4 linked regions of the Homo sapiens genome follow. The protein of the gene in region 2 purifies or fractionates together with the protein of the main gene of each other region. This does not show direct contact. Each region holds a gene or a part of one and is shown on either strand. Other genes may lie near its edges.

The links. Proteins that work in one complex are often made in the same cells at the same time.
Region 1: the proteins of EZH1 (region 2) and MTF2 purify together in Homo sapiens (affinity purification with mass spectrometry; 3 studies listed by BioGRID and IntAct, with this or other methods). This does not show direct contact.
Region 3: the proteins of EZH1 (region 2) and RP9 purify together in Homo sapiens (affinity purification with mass spectrometry; one large-scale study listed by BioGRID and IntAct). This does not show direct contact.
Region 4: the proteins of EZH1 (region 2) and SFSWAP purify together in Homo sapiens (affinity purification with mass spectrometry; one large-scale study listed by BioGRID and IntAct). This does not show direct contact.

The regions. Positions count from the first base shown.
Region 1 is NC_000001.11:93,120,692-93,124,546, reverse strand, and holds part of MTF2 (metal-response element-binding transcription factor 2), read right to left. Parts: intron 1-3,855. UniProt on the Homo sapiens protein: Polycomb group (PcG) protein that specifically binds histone H3 trimethylated at 'Lys-36' (H3K36me3) and recruits the PRC2 complex, thus enhancing PRC2 H3K27me3 methylation activity.
Region 2 is NC_000017.11:42,716,585-42,722,071, forward strand, and holds part of EZH1 (histone-lysine N-methyltransferase EZH1), read right to left. Parts: intron 3,866-5,487; coding exon 3,689-3,865; intron 2,624-3,688; coding exon 2,521-2,623; intron 2,034-2,520; coding exon 1,870-2,033; intron 1,484-1,869; coding exon 1,392-1,483; intron 1-1,391.
Region 3 is NC_000007.14:33,096,587-33,099,495, forward strand, and holds part of RP9 (retinitis pigmentosa 9 protein), read right to left. Parts: intron 2,851-2,909; coding exon 2,721-2,850; intron 777-2,720; coding exon 685-776; intron 1-684. UniProt on the Homo sapiens protein: Is thought to be a target protein for the PIM1 kinase. May play some roles in B-cell proliferation in association with PIM1.
Region 4 is NC_000012.12:131,762,999-131,766,853, forward strand, and holds part of SFSWAP (splicing factor, suppressor of white-apricot homolog), read left to right. Parts: intron 1-1,457; coding exon 1,458-1,688; intron 1,689-3,119; coding exon 3,120-3,310; intron 3,311-3,855.

The DNA.
Region 1 (3,855 bases), on a different chromosome or scaffold from region 2:
TTTTCTCCCTACCTCCCTCAGAAGTGAAGTAGCACTCCATAAATTATTCTGGTATCAACCTCAGGGTTTCTAAAATTTAAGACCACAGAAGAGTGGTTATTACAGAACTAGGATTTCAAATAACTTTAAGAATCAAACACAAATGACAATAAGCGATTACAAAAAGTACTAATATCTCATTTTAAACTCCCCAAAACAATCTGATACAACAGATGAGACTTCATTTTACATAAAAACCTTAAGAAAGTTTATCATGGTTTCAAATGTTAAGTATTTTTACTATCTCAAAGAAAATAATCCAAAACATAGTAGTTCCTCAAACAGCTACACTCAATCTATATGATAATCATTAGGTACCAAGCCAAAAGAAGTACAAAAACTACATAAGGAAACAATGTAATACTACCATTATCTTCTAAAATGATTCAAAAGTTTTATCTTCTCTTCATAACAATCCTATACCGTATTCAACTAAGAAAAAAATATGATACATGAATGTTACATTTTGGCTTTTCAGTATGACAGGATATTATCTCCAAAAGTGTAATATTTTTGAAACTTCTTTTTATTACTAAAAGAAGTCACAGCTTTGGATGATAATGATGTATTGATGTAGCTTCATCAATTATAACTATCTACCATTATGGTGGAGGGATGTTGATAATGGAGGAGGCAATGCATGTGTGGCAGAAGGGGACAACCTAAATCTGCTCTTAAAAAAAAAAAAAAAGTCTTTAAAATAAAAACAGTCACAGTGCTTCCTTTATTAAAAAAAGGGGGGGGGGACACAATACACGAAACAGAATACAACTGATTCAATGTAAGATTACAGCAAGTAATTACAAATGTAAATATGTATTTACTAGGTTTCTAAAATAAAAAATACCATTAAAGTTTAGCCAGCCTCATCATATGTAAAATTATAATTCAAAGTTCAGGGATAATAAATGTGGATAACTGCCTAGTTGTGCAATATATATTCCTACGCAAAATGCCATAAAAAATCTCAATCAACTTATATCATTACAAAATTTTTTCTCTGATCTGGTGGCAAGAGGAAGGAAACTCCACATTTTAGATAAACTAAAATCACAACCTTTGTTCTATTTTGTTTCATTTTTGAAGATAAATTTCTAGAGCAGGCGCTTTAGTCTATATTACGTATAACAAGAATTGCTGAGGCAGGAAGATAACTTGACCTCAGGAGTTCAAGGCTTCAGTGAGCTATGTATGACTGTACCATTGCACTCCAGCCTGAGCAAGGGTCTCTTAAAAAAAAAAAAAGAGAGAGAGAGACTCTCCTGTCCTGTCTCTTAAAAAAAAAAAAAAAAAAAAAGAAAGAGCTGATGTTCAAAATGACTAAAGTACTCCAAGGTACTCAATTATAAAATATAAACATTATATTTAGCATACACTACTTCCCATGTTTTGAAAATAATTAATGGCATTTTATAAGATTTGGAACAAGAATATAAACAAAAGTAAATTTTTGTTAACCTAAATTTGGATTAGTGACAAAATTCAATTTGTAATTCATTTTTAGTTTATCAAAAATTTTCTATTCAAATAATTTGGAATGACCCATTATTTATGTTACCTTTTTATTGATCACTACAAACATTTGAAAGTAATCTAAATGAAAAACACTGAATAAACATGATAAACTAGCATAAATTTTATCATCTCTTTATTATTAAAAACTCACCCTAAAATCCAATTATAATTACAGTACAAAAATATAAAATACAGAAAATTAGAAACCTTAACTTCAATCTGTCAGTTACCAAAGTCTGTGAATGAGATGTCTCATCTAAGAAGTCTGAATATTTTCTTATTTTAATCCACAGAAAGAACAGTAAGAAATTATTAGTCTCTTGTTTTAGTAATAAATTTGATGGTCAAAAAGTGGAAATAATTTGCAAAACTTTTTCTTTTTTTCTAAGACATTACCTCATAGGCTACAGAAATAAAAACATGTATTATTACTGAAGCAAATTTTTTCTAGTATGTTTCAGAAGTTCAGTTGGAGCTGGGACACCCAAAATTCATAAACTGAACTCTTTTCTTGAAAAATATACTAAATGTGATTTTCATTTTCTTATATTTCCAGCCTCTCAAATAAAATCTAAACACTAAAATTTAAATTTTAATTAAAAAGGACAGCATTTGAAATAAACACAACTTGAGTTTTTATATTATATATACCCAATGTCTACATCAAGTTACTACTGCAGAATTTCATCATGTAATGCAGACAATGTACTAACAGGTATACATATGTATCTGCATATGAAGTGCTAAAAGAATAATGGCTAGAAAGAATTTTTAAACAAATGTATTATAGTATTAAATATTAAGATAATTATAAAAACCACTATAGCCACTTCTAATGCCTTACCCCTTACTTTCTGATTACTAATCAGTTTATTAAAATTTATCAAATGTGGCCATGCCCAGTGGCTCATGCCTGTAATCTCAGCACTTTGGGAGGCCAAGGTGGGCGGATCACTTAAGGTCAGGAGTTCAAGACCAGCCTGGCCAACATGGCAAAACTCCATCTCTACTAAAAATACAAAAATTAGCTGGGTATGGTGGCAGGTGCCTGTAATCCCAGCTACTTAGGAGGCTAAGGCAGGAGAATGGCTTGAGCCTGGGAGGCGGAGGTTGCGGTGAGCTGAGATCACGCCATTGCACTCCAGCCTGGGTGACAGAGCAAGACTCCGTCTCCAAAAAAAAAAAAAAAAAAAAAAAAAATCAAATGTACACATCACTCACTTTCTCTCAGACTTCATCTAAAAAAAAAGTATTTAACAGAAAACTTAACAAAAATTTGTATGATAATCCAATATCTAACATTCAAAACTCAAATGATGAATTCAAAAATTCATCAATTGAATTTCAATAATATCCTAGATTTTAAAACTACAAACTAAATCATGCATTATGTTCTCCCTGATATCCCATAAACCCCCAAAAAGCCCTTTGATATCCTATTTGATATGAAATAGGATGTCCTTCGTGTCTCAAAGCTACAAATCAAGAAATTCTTCCTAAACTTCAAATCAGTGTGCAAAATTTTTACCTAAAAAAAAGCATGACTAAGATATACATATCAAATTCCATATTATAAAACAAATTTTTTAGTTTTAACTAAAAGTAGTTAATATATGTACTTTAGTAATTCTAAATAAAAGCTAAAAATAAGGTCCCTAACTATTAAACTTATTCTAGTTACTTTTCTCTTTCTGCTATTCATTAGTTTCAAAATTTTCTTTAATGAACACACATTACTTTTAAATTCATTTAAAAAAAGACTGTAAACCAGCATAGGTAGTTACACTTCAAAAATGAGAAGCAAAATGAGATGTCAGAATGAGAGGGGATAATTTTCTATTCAGGCAGCTTCACTCTACAACTCATTTTTCTAACAATATTATTAGATCCCACCATTCCTACAAGTCAGAAATATATAAAGGAGTACCAACAAGAGAGGAAGGAAGAATGTTGGTTATATCTCTAAGTTTATAGAAAACTTAGAAGAAAAGGAGGTTGAACTACAAGTAAGATACCCAATACTAAAGATTTCTCCCTCCCTTCTATCTTTAACTACAATGACTTTCACTTCAGAAAATGAAAGAATCAAATAATATACCTCCTCCTTCTACAAATTTCCAGAGTCAACAGGCAACAAACACACAGGAGGATGAGAAGGCTGGTCCTGATATCCATACCAAACTTATTTGTCCCCAGAACTAAAAATAAAATTCTATTTTAGTTGTCTGACTTATACATGTGTCTCAGTTGTTTTTTGAAAAACAAAACAAAACAAAAAAGACATCAAGTAGCTACTGAAGT
Region 2 (5,487 bases):
AGGGTATCAAGGTGACTCCTGTGAGAAGGGCAATGACCTTTTGACTTATATAAATGCTGGTATGTTGACATAACATGGCATATATATTTTTTTAAGGATGAAGTAATTTCATTTTATTATTATTTTTTTTTTGAGATGGAGTCTCACTATCTCACCCAGGCTGGAGTACAGTGGCGTGATCTCGGCTCACTGCAGCCTCCACCTCCTGGGTTCAAGCAATTCTCCTGTCTCAGCCTCCTGAGTAGCTGGGATTACAGGCGTGCGCCACCACACCTGGTTAATTTTGTATTTTCAGTAGAGACAGGGTTTTTCCATGTTGACCAGGCTGGTCTCAAACTCCTGACCTCAGGTGATCCACCTCCCTCAGCCTCCCAAAGTGCTGGGATTATAGGTGTGCACTACGACGCCTGGCTGAAAAACATGGAGTAATTTTAAAAGCATGATCTGTGGAGTTAGACCCTGACTTGAATTTCATCGCTGCCATACCGCTGACTTATCAACAAACTTTAGGCAAAATATATAACTTTTGTAATCCAGTTTCCTCTACCTCATGACACTGTTATAGGATGAAAATAAGACAAGGTATGTTAAGGGTCTACTATGATACTTGGCACATAGGAAGGAGTCAATACACATTAGGAAAAAATAAACCCAATAACGTCTATTCTTTTGCTTTTACAGTACGGCCCATTTTCCACATGTGTGCCCAACAGCATTCTCTACCATCTTTCCATCTATTATCCCACTAAAGATGGTTCCAAAAGCACTTGGCTGGTTGTATAATATAATTTTAATAGGTGGCAGAAATTTTATCAAGGTATTTTATTCATCGCCTAGGCTCATCCTATTGTGTAAAAAGCCCAACTGTGTCTTTGGCAAGTCCAGTTGATCTATTTCCTTCTAGCTCTCAATATATGGCTTCCCCACAGGTATGCCAGACCATTTATGCTGCTTCTTAAGGTCTGTCCATCAGGGAACGGTCCATCTGGTTGATCACAACAAGACATCAGCATCATCACGTGCTATTCGTCTCATAGTTATATGCATTTATAACAAGATAGCAAAGAAACTAGAGTGTGTACCCACCCCCCCAGCATACACTTTGCTCCAATTCTAACAATACAGTTTTAGGCTCTGAAATCTAAGCAGATGATATTTAGAGCAGGCAAGCCTTTAATGATCTTCGAATCTGCACTCCATCAGACTAACTTTATAGTGCTACCATGTCTGGGGAGTTCCTTAAGAGCGGTCCCACAGTAACTGGGGAGCTCCTTAAGAGCAAAAGCCATGTTTTATTTGTGCTATATGACCCCCAGAGTGCTGTGTACTGGCTCACGTGGCTTGTGTTCCCAGAATGAAGTTAATAATGCCAGAACAGCTTAAGAACATACCAGCAAAAGGAAGCAGTCTGTGCCACATGGTTCTGGTTCAATCTTGATTTCTTTATTCTTGCGTTTATATACATTAGGGGTGGCATGAAAAGCTGGAAAACAAAAACTGTCTTGTTGCCAGTGGTCTATCCACTTGACAAGATGGGGAGAAACAAAAGTGAATTAGAGAGCTATTGTAGGAGTTAGAATTCGATATAAACGGCTACCATCAGGGTGCACAAAATTCAGTCATTTCTGACATCAACACAATGCTTTCAAAGCTAAGAGGTACTGAGGGACAGATAAGTTGCTAGTTAGTCTGTCCCTATCATGCAAAGCATGTTGCACTATAATTGAGCAAGGGAAAATAGAACTGGCCCTTTGTAAAACGTTAGAACAGAAGCCAGGAACTCTATACGAGAAACCAGAACAAAGAGAAGGAAATGGTGGCTGGGGATGGAAGAGAGGAGAGCATTTCAAACAGAGTAGCCCCACTCACGGTGAAGGAAGCAGTCGTATTTAAAGCAGCGCCGGCAAAAAAGTGTGTGGAAGGAGTGCAGAGATTGCTCCCGCTGCACAGACTTGGCATTGGGGCCATCGATGTTGGGTGTGCACTGAGGGGGAAGTGCATTGGGGTCTGACATCTCTGTTAGTTCTCGATACCTATTTAAGAAAAGAGAGATAAGAGTTCCTCCGAGGAACTGCCTCCACTGAGGAAATACAGATTGGGTACTGACAGTAGCTCACCTACGGTCTGCCAAGGGAGGATGGGTGTTTTTTATAGGTCTGGTTGATAAGAGAATGGTAGATAACTAGAGTGGGTCCACCATTGTAATTATGCTGGGTTGGGCAAATGTTGGAAAGTAAGGGGAGGGAAGGATTTGTTAAGATGGTGCTGGAGTTAACTCTCCAGAAAAATGGCAGAGTAAATGTTCTCTGCCCAGACTCACTCAAAAGCCAGTATACGATGACCCTTAATATAGTAAGGGGGGCATTTAGAGGTAATTGAGTAAGCAAGAAATAATCAAATTGCGGGCAAATCATAATGCCCTTACCATAAACAAAGCTTTTTACTAACCAAAAATTAGGAGGGAATAAAGGTTTTGTCCGAGCACTCTGTATATGGCCTAAGTGGGACAGCTTTCCCTACCTCTCCTTCATGTCATCTGGGACACCATTCTCAGGGAACATTGAGGCAATTGCACTGAAGATCATGTCATTTGGGAACTGTTTCTTGGAACTCTTTTTGTTGCCTGAATTGGAAATGATAAAAAGCTCCTGAGTGCGATTATCAGAACACGTAAACAAATCTGTGTGATCTTTTTTCCTTTTGTCATAGCATTTTGATTACAGCTGCTTTGTTAACCTAACCACTGATTGTTTGGAGATATATAAACATCAGTGCTATCTGGACTTATCTGATATATGCTACCAGTAAATAAGGAAGTTAGAGTAGTCTACATATTAACAACAAAATCCACAGTCCCAATTAGAATCTGGATGTGAGGTGGCTCACGCCTGTAATCCCAGTCAGTACTTTGAGAGGCCGAGGGGAGCGGATCACTTGAGGCCAGGAGTTTGAGACCAGCCTGGCCAACATGGTAAAACCCCAACTCTACTAAAAATACAAAACTTAGCTGGGCATGGTGGTGCATGCCTATAGTCCCAGCTACTTAGAAGGCTGACACACAAGAATCACTTGAACCAGGGAGGTGGAGGTTGCAGTGAGCCGAGATTGTGCCACTGCACTCCACCTTGGGTAACAGAGCAAGACTGTGTCTCAAAAAAATAATAAATAATAGATTTTAAAAATAAAAATAAGAATTTGGAGGTGAAAAGAGTGTTCATAGAGAGGCCTGAACATAGAAGAATCCTATCATGAAGTGGATGCTGAAGAACTACACTGATACTATAATTATGATACAATAAAAGAGAATACACTATGTCCCTGGACATATAGTATAATTAAACTATTAAATTTTAAATTAAACATTAGTGACATGGAAAAGTACTCATAAGATTAAATAAAAAGGGATATAAAATTTGATATATACATATATATAAATTGGCATGATCCCAATTTCACATGAGACATATAATTAGAAATGAATAGCAATGATTATTCTATCAGTTCTTCTACTTTCTTCTTCACCCAAGTCACAGCTATCTGAAGCTATCACTTAATGATCATGTTCTCCTTTTAAGTGAACCAACAAGAAGCACCAACAGCCTTTAATAGGCAACAAATCTTTCCAGTTCTTCCTTCTTCCCTATCCCTGTCACTTTAAAAAAGGAATAAGGGAGCCAGTGCTACGTACCTTCAATAGCATGTCGCTTTCTCTTTCTTGTTACTGGCAGATCTTCTTTGCTGTCATCCTGCTTTCCATCTGAGGTGTCATTGTGCCCTTCCTCCTCCTCATCTGAGTACTGATTCAGGGCATCGACCAACTCCAGAAAAACAGCATCACTAATCAGAACGGATCCAGGGATCATCTCTGAAACATGAGGATTCGAAAGATGAGCAGTGGTCACTTCACATTCCATTAGTCCTCCTAGGCAGGTTTTCTTGTACTCACTCCAGAGGCCCAGATATGTCACATGTGTACATTTTTACATGGGAGATCAGGAAATTACAATCATTTGATTGGCTCCTACACATGCAGTGGGCAGCTGGCTAGAGTAGGAATACAGCTATAGGCTTTATTTATTTTTATTATTTTTTTTAGACGGAGTTTCGCCTTATTGCCCAGGCTGGAGTGCAATGGCGCGATCTTGGCTCACCGCAACCTCCACCTCCCAGGTTCAAGTGATTCTCCTGCCTCAGCCTCCCGAGTAGCTGAGATTACGCATGTGCCACCACCCTGGCTAATTTTGTATTTTAGTAGAGACTGGGTTTCTCCATGTCAGGCTGGTCGTGAACTCCAGACCTCAGGTGATCCGCCCGCCTCGGCCTACCAAAATGCTGGGATTACAGGTGTGACCCACCGTGCCCAGCCATAGGCTTTATTCTTACTGAAGAACTTCACTTCCTCAGTCACAAGTCAACTCTGAATTTCTGGTTCAAAATCTCATGAAAGTGTTCAAACAATCTCCAAGTAGGGCAGAGAAAAATAATAAAATGAAAATTCTCTTGGCTTTGCTGCTGATGGGTCAGTAATGACGTCTCTAAATCAAAAGACAGCAATTTTTCCTAAAATTGTACTTTATGGAGATGTACTACAATTTAGGAGGTCTTTGAACACTAGGAGGCACTGTGGACAAATAATGTAGTTCAACAGCATCACAACAGTGCCCACAATTGTCAAAAGAGCAGGTGGGGCTGTTGGTTTATGAAGTGATGGAGAGCCTCTCCTCTTTCCATTTCTTACACACGGACAGACTTTTCTAGAATTATGACTAAATCCAAACAATTGGCTTTTAGGAAATTCAGATTATTAAAACCAACTTCTGGGAGATTCAGGGGATGCCTGGATCAAAGAAGTATGACAGAGAGCCTCATTGCCATTCTCAGAGAAAGAGAAATAAAGAACAAAATGGTCTTGGATGTCCTTATGGAAAACTCCTAAGCCCTAAGATTAAACTTATTTGTACAATAAACTTTCTCTCCAGCCACTGATTACTACATAATCCTTTTATGTCCCAACTCCTTTTAAAATTTAACTAGGATACTTTAAATAATTTTTATTTCTGTTTCTGCTGCTTGAATCAGAAATAACTAGGGTAATAAAAAAAAAAAAGAAAGAAAGAAAAAAAGAAATAACTAGGGTATTTTGGGCCAGGCATGTTGGCTCACTCTTGTAATCCCAGAGCTTTGGGAGGCCAACGTGGGAGGATTGCTTGAGGCCAGGAGTTTAAGACCAGCCTGGGCAACGTGGTGAGACTCCATCTCTACAAAAAATTTTAAAAATAAGCCAGGGCCGGGCACGGTGGCTCACGCCTGTAATCCCAGCACTTTGGGAGGCTGAGGTGGGAGGATCACAAGGTCAGGAGATCGAGACCATCCTGGCTCACACGGTGAAACCCCATCCCTACTAAAAATACAAAAAAGTAGCCGGGTGTGGTAGGCGCCTGTAGTCCCAGCTACCTCGGGAGGCTGAGGCAGGAGAATGGCATGAAC
Region 3 (2,909 bases), on a different chromosome or scaffold from region 2:
GGCTTCATGGATCACAAGTTAAATACAATGAAATGCCTATGTTATGAAAACCAGTTTATTTTTTTTTTTACTGTTTGATGTAGCTGCATGTTCAACATGTTCTAGGTCACATCACTGAAAACTCATTAAGGCTAAAAAATGGATTTTCCAATTAGAAAAATACAGGAAATGGCTACTCTCAGCACACTGTCTTTGGGGTAGCCCTGCTCTGCAGGAGCAATCACAGAGCTATAACACTGCCACCTCAAAAACAAAGAAAAATACAGGGAATAACTGTCATCTAAAGAAAAAATATACGGACACTTTAATCTTACAGTTTAAAGACATGTACTCTTTAAAGACCGGGAAATTAAATCCCTGATTTCAGTCATGAAACATGACTTTTTTACACAGTAAATTTTAAAAAGTGCGGTTGAATAGATAACAATGTCTGTTTCAGAAAAAAAATCACTGTTCCAAGTTACAAACAAAGATCACTTTAATAAGAATTCCTTTTTTTTGTAAAAGAGCTAATTTGTCATACAAATGTAATTTAATAAGCATGTAGTTAACAGCACACACTTTGGTCAAAGGGCTTCTGGGAATGTATTTTATGTGACCATTCAAGTTCACTGGTGACTTTCTGCTTCACTGATTTTCACTATCTCTGATAAATGTAAATTGACACTCTTGGACTTTACTTACCACTCTGAACTGCTCTAACTTTTGGTTGCCTTTGATAAAGAAAGGGCATTCTTTGTCACCCGTTCGGTGACCATAGCGTTTGCAACGCCAACCTAAAAACGAAAAGAGAAATATTTCTGTAAGATAACAGTTTCACCTACTCAAGATAAAGAATCAGCAGAATATATTCAAGTTTTTCTTCATTAAACTCTAATTCTAAAACAAAATATAATTATGGACAAGCCATGTAAGATCCCAGAAACAGAGGTAAACTAATTGCTTCCCCAAGCATCCTTTAGTCTTATACCTTTAGGAATAATATTCTATCACCAAGTATTTATGAAGCAATCCAATGGAGAATTACTTCAAAAGGTGAATTTTTTTTTTTGAGATGGAGTCCTGCTCTGTCGCTCAGGCTGGAGTGCAGTGGCGTGATCTCAGCTCACTGCAACCTCTGCCTCCTGGGTTCAAGATATTCTTCTATTTCAGCCTCCTGGGTAGCTGGGATTACAGGTGCGTACCACCACACCCAGCTAATTTTTGTATTTTTAGCAGAGATGGGGTTTTGCCATGTTGCCCAGGCTGGTCTTCAACTCCTGACCTCAGGTGATCCGCCCGCCTCAGCCTCCCAAAGTGCTGGGATTACAGGCGTGAGCCACCACGCCCGGCCCAAAAGGTACATTTTTTTTAAAGTGTGTTTCAGTATATTTTTCAGAGTAAATGTTTTCATAAAGTATCTCTGCTTCTCATTTACTATTTTAGACACTATAAAAGCTTCTTTCTCAGGTTGAGTCTGTTCAAAACTCTCACTTTTAAGTAAATAAAATCACAAGTTCTCTTAGAATATTAATGGTGGCTGGGCACAGTGGCTCCTACCTGTAATCCTAGCACTTTGGGAGGCAGAGGCGGGTAGATCGCTTGAGGCCAGGAGTTCGAGACTAGCTTAGGCAACATGGTGAAACCCTATCTCTACAAAAGTACAAAAAAATTAGCTAAGCCTGGTGGCGCATGCCTGTAGTCCCAGCTATCTCAGAGGCTGATGTGAGATCACCTGATTCTGGGAGGTTGAGGCTGCAGTAAGTTGTGATCACACCACTGCACTCCAGCCCGGGTGACAGAGTGAGACCCTGTTTTCCTGACCCTGGTAGAAGGTTGTTTAATGTGTGGAAAAGGTAAAACAGAGGGTCTCTGGCCAGGGAGACCAGGGAGACATCAGGTAGGTCTGAAGGAAGCTGCTGCAATAGCCACAAAGGGTCACACGAATGAATGAAAAGCAGATGGACACATTTCCAGACTCCCTCCACTCGGCTCCCAGAACACTCATAGTATGGCTTTCCCTCCACGTGGGAGCCTTCTCTGGGAAAATATAACCCACCCAAAGAAGAAAAACCGATAGATACTGAACTCTGAGGCACGTTGTCTTTGCTTTTAACAAATAATCAAGGCAATGAAGCATTCCCATCAAAATTCTCAAGGAAACTGATTTTTAAATTAGAATTCAATATCCTGGTAGTTAAAAATCTGTTAAAGACGATTCCAGAAAAGTAAAGGTCTTAACATTTTTATCTTCTATAAACCCATTTTGAAGGTAACAGCCATAGGATTTGTTACACCATAAGGAGAGAATATGATAATAAAGAAGACTCAAGACACAGGAAAATGGGTGATCCAACACGGGAGAGAGGCTAAGGGGACCTGCAGAAAGATGGTGTCTTAGTCAGCTCGGGCTGACATAACAAAATGCCGTATTCTGGGTGGCCTAAACAACAGAAACTGGTTTTCTCATTCATTCTGTAGGTTGGAAATCTGAGATCAGGGTCCCAGCAAGGTGGGTTTGTGGTGAGAGCTTTCTTCCTGGCTTAAGATGACAGCCCTCTTTCTTCTTCACATGGCACGGTGGTGGGGGGTGGGGTGGATGCTTCCTTATCTAGAAGATGGAGAACGTGCCTTGGCTGTAAGAGGGCTGTGATGAGAACAAGTTAAATAAAAGAAGTAAACACTCTTTGTAAATTGAGGCATGTAAGTTGCATGGATTAGGGAAACTCTCCCACACTCACACTGCATAACTTTGACTTCTTTCCCCAGTGGCATCCAAAGTCCTTTAGTTGGTGCATGAGCCAGAAATTCCCTGGCGTGTTCATTGCCTGGTACATCTGGTATGCAATCTTCTGGCTTAGTCTCATCTTCCTAAAAAAGGGAACAGGTATAAACAGCATGGCAAGAGCGCTGGGATTCTCTCCTGCTCC
Region 4 (3,855 bases), on a different chromosome or scaffold from region 2:
CTGCCGGCCCTGCTGCTTTTTATTTTGATGTTATAAAATACTGCTGTCCCGGTATCAGTATCTTTGTGTGTGCCCTGTCCCCTGAGGCAGTTGTTGATGAAAAGTGGTTATATTTCAGAGGGTCTGGGCTATCACATGCTTAACTGTCTACTTCACATCACACGCGGGTTTGGAGCCATAAAATGCTAAAGCGGAAGGACCTCCGCCAGGGGCCAGCCAGGTAGCCCACCCTGTGCTACAGAGGTGGCATCACAAACATAAGTTGCAGCCCTTCCAGAAGCGGCCTTGTTTACCCAGAACCCACTTCCCTCTCAGTCACCTGGTTTGCGGTGCACTTAGCATCCCCTTCATTGTGGGTGCCTTGAATATTCTTCATAAATAACAACTGATGGTTTTTTAAAATACTGTATCTTATTGCAACCAGTTAGCTCTTGTCAAGAGCCATTTATCACAGCATCTGAAAGAGAAAGGGACTCTGTGTTCATTGAGTGGTGGGGCGGGAAAGATGATTTTTTCTTTAGGGCCTCCATATTTCCCTTAAATTTAAGCCTTCTGGATATTCTAAGAGGAGGGATTGCTTCTAAACTTCTGTCACGCTGGGTTTGACATTTTCTTACAGGTGTGGAAAATGGTCTAACATAATGCCTGTCACAAAGTAGGTAAAAATGTTTGCTGAATAAAGGCATGGATTCTGTAATTTTTGCTTTGTAAGAAAAGGCTATTTTTTATCATGGGGAATTTTTTAAAGAGACCTGTTTATAGTGGAGTCACATCATATGCCTCCTGAAGCAAATTTAGATATATGCTGAGCCATGAATTTTTTTTTTTTTTTTTAAAGAAAAATGAGGCCGGGCACAGTGGCTCACGTCTATAATCCCAGCACTTTGGGAGGCCGAGGCAGGCGGATCACGAGGTCAGGAGATCAAGACCATCCTGGCTAACATGGTGAAACCCCATCTCTACTAAAAATAGAAAAATTTAGCCAGGCATGGCAGCGGGCGCCTGTACTCCCAGCTACTCAGGAGGCTGAGGCAGGAGAATCGCTTGAACCTAGGAGGCAGAGGTTGCAGTGAGCCGAGATCGTGCCACTGCACTCCAGCCTGGGCGACAGAGCGAGACTCCATCTCAAAAAGAAAAGAAAAGAAAAATGACAAGAATTGGCCATTTAAAATTGCAGGTGACTGCCCTGGCATCAGCGAGTGTGCCCTTGCCATGAAGTCCCCAGTCAGTGCGGTTCTCACAGCATGGTTCAGGGGCTCACCCCAGCCCCACGCCATGCAGTGCACATCTGCACAGGTCTGCTCTGACGGCACGGCGTCCCCCACCGTAGACCCTGCATATGATGTGGCTCCATGCTAGTCATCCCCTTCCCAGCAGCCGATGCTCAGGTGGGTAGCAGGGCCTGCAAAGATTTCCACTCTGTAACATGTATCATAATTCTCACCTTTCCTCAATAGCTTCCTTTGCTCCAATAAGCTTTGCAATCAAGGCCAAAGAAAATGATCTGCTTCCCCTGGAAAAAAATCGTGTTAAGCTAGATGATGACAGTGATGATGATGAAGAAAGCAAAGAAGGCCAAGAAAGTTCTAGTAGTGCTGCAAACACTAACCCAGCAGTTGCCCCACCCTGTGTAGTTGTTGAGGAGAAGAAGCCTCAACTTACCCAGGAGGAGCTAGAAGCAAAGCAAGGTTTGTTGATAGCTTTTAAACTTCTTGAAAGAAAGGAAATACACAAATATAAGATTTATCTGCTAAGCCAAAAAATCTCGAGGCTGCCAACTAGAATCTGAAGCCTTTGGAAATCGACCTATTTGGGAGTTGTGTAACATGTCTGAGGTTTTGAAACGTTCTCTTTTAGAGGAATGAGCTCTGCTCTTCACTGAGCCTCAAATGCAGTGCCGCTGGCAGTTTGTTTTCGAAGAAACTGAGTTGGCCGTCTTAGCTCTAATGCGCCACAGTGGAATGCATTAATGGCAGCTCACTTTGCACTTGGCTGGCAGCCCCAGGGTAAAAGGCTCAGCCTGTCTTCCCAGCTCAGGAACCAAACTAGGAGATGCCCTCTTGTGAGGCTGCCTACCCACAGAACCATTGGGCCCTTGAAGGTGGTGTGTCCCCAGCTGGTTTTCCGGCTGCGGCTCATCTTCATGGGCCGCAGTGTGGCCACCACACCCACCCCAACACTGCTGGCAGCATGGGGACAGCATGTAGTCTTCCCATCCCGACTCCAGAATAAATTCTGCTCTGCATTAAAGCAGTCAAATAATGGTTGCTGCATTGTGGTTGTTATCTATTCTAACTGATTTTCTTAAATTGCTTTTCCTGTATACACACATTCAGATCAAGCAACATTTGAAAGAGGCCAATTTTCAGGCCAGGCGCGGTAGCTCATGCCTGTAATCCCAGCACTTTGGGAGGCTAAGGTGGGTGGATCACCTGAGGTCAGAAGTTAGAAACCAGCCTGGCCAACATGGTGAGACCCCATCTCTACTGAAAAAACAAAATTAGCCGGGCGTGGTGGCACACGCCTGTAATCCCAGCTACTTGGGAGGCTGAGGCAGGAGAATCGCTTGAACCCGGGAGGCAGAGGTTGCAGTGAGCTGAGATCACGCCATTGCACTACAGCCTGGGCAACAAGAGCAAAAACTCCGTCTCAAAGAAAAAAAAAAAAAGCCATTTTTCAACCACAATCCACCATCAAGAACTTCCATTGTGCTGTGGTGTTCTCCCTAAGCAAACTTGTACTCATGCCTGTACATCTGAATCTGTCCTTCCTGTGTGTAAACTAACCAACTGTCGGATCATTTGGAATAAAACACTTATAGAGTATTCATTGCCTGGTGTGAATATTTTGGATATATGCTGAGAGCCACTCTGAGGTTTTCATTATTCCAGCTTTCGTTAGTGTAGAGTCTCACCAACCTTCTAACTCTGAAAGTAAAATGTCCAAAAAAGGGCACGTTATAAACTAATTCTCTCAAAATTTGATTTGTCCAATGTATGTACCTATTCAGAAACTTTAACTAACTGCATTGTATGACACTTTTGCAACCTGTGAAAATTAAGATCAGATAAAATACTGTTTGCTCTAAACTTCTCTTTTTTCTTTGTTTATTCCTTAAGCAAAGCAAAAGCTGGAAGATCGCCTCGCAGCTGCTGCCCGGGAAAAGCTGGCCCAGGCGTCTAAGGAGTCAAAAGAGAAACAGCTTCAAGCAGAACGTAAAAGGAAAGCGGCGTTATTTTTACAGACCCTCAAAAATCCTCTGCCGGAAGCAGAAGCTGGGAAAATTGAGGAGAGTCCTTTCAGTGTCGAGGTATAGTAAAATCCCACATTGGTATCTGCGGGGCTGTGTGATACATAGAGGCAGGGAGGATGTGTCTCCCTCCAGCTGCCCTAGTCTCTGGCCTGAGTGAGGGATATGAGCTCCCAGCTCTTCCTCCCGACATGGTTGAGTGGCTTTTACTCTATAGCAGTGAATCTAAGAGTTTGCCAGCAGTCTCCCCCGTCAGTGCACAGTCACGCCAGCAGCAAACACTGCCCGCGATTTCAGGGGAGCCTCTGCTTCACGGCTGCCCTTATGGGGCTGGCAGGAGGGCTTGGGGAGTGCCTCCCATGGGTCCTGCTGGGGAAATGTGGTGGACACACTTCACTGAAGCCCCGCCTCCGCAGCAGCACCAGTATTGCGCTCACACGTGGGGCAGAAATCCTTTTGCCACGGTCTGTATCAATGTCAGCACTTTAATTAAAGAGAAAAAGGAAGAGGGAGTTAAGAGAACAGACTCCAGGAGTACATGGCTCCTTCCTCAGTGGTGTGAGCAGGAATAGGGCCTTACATGGGGGTCATCACGTGGCTGCCTT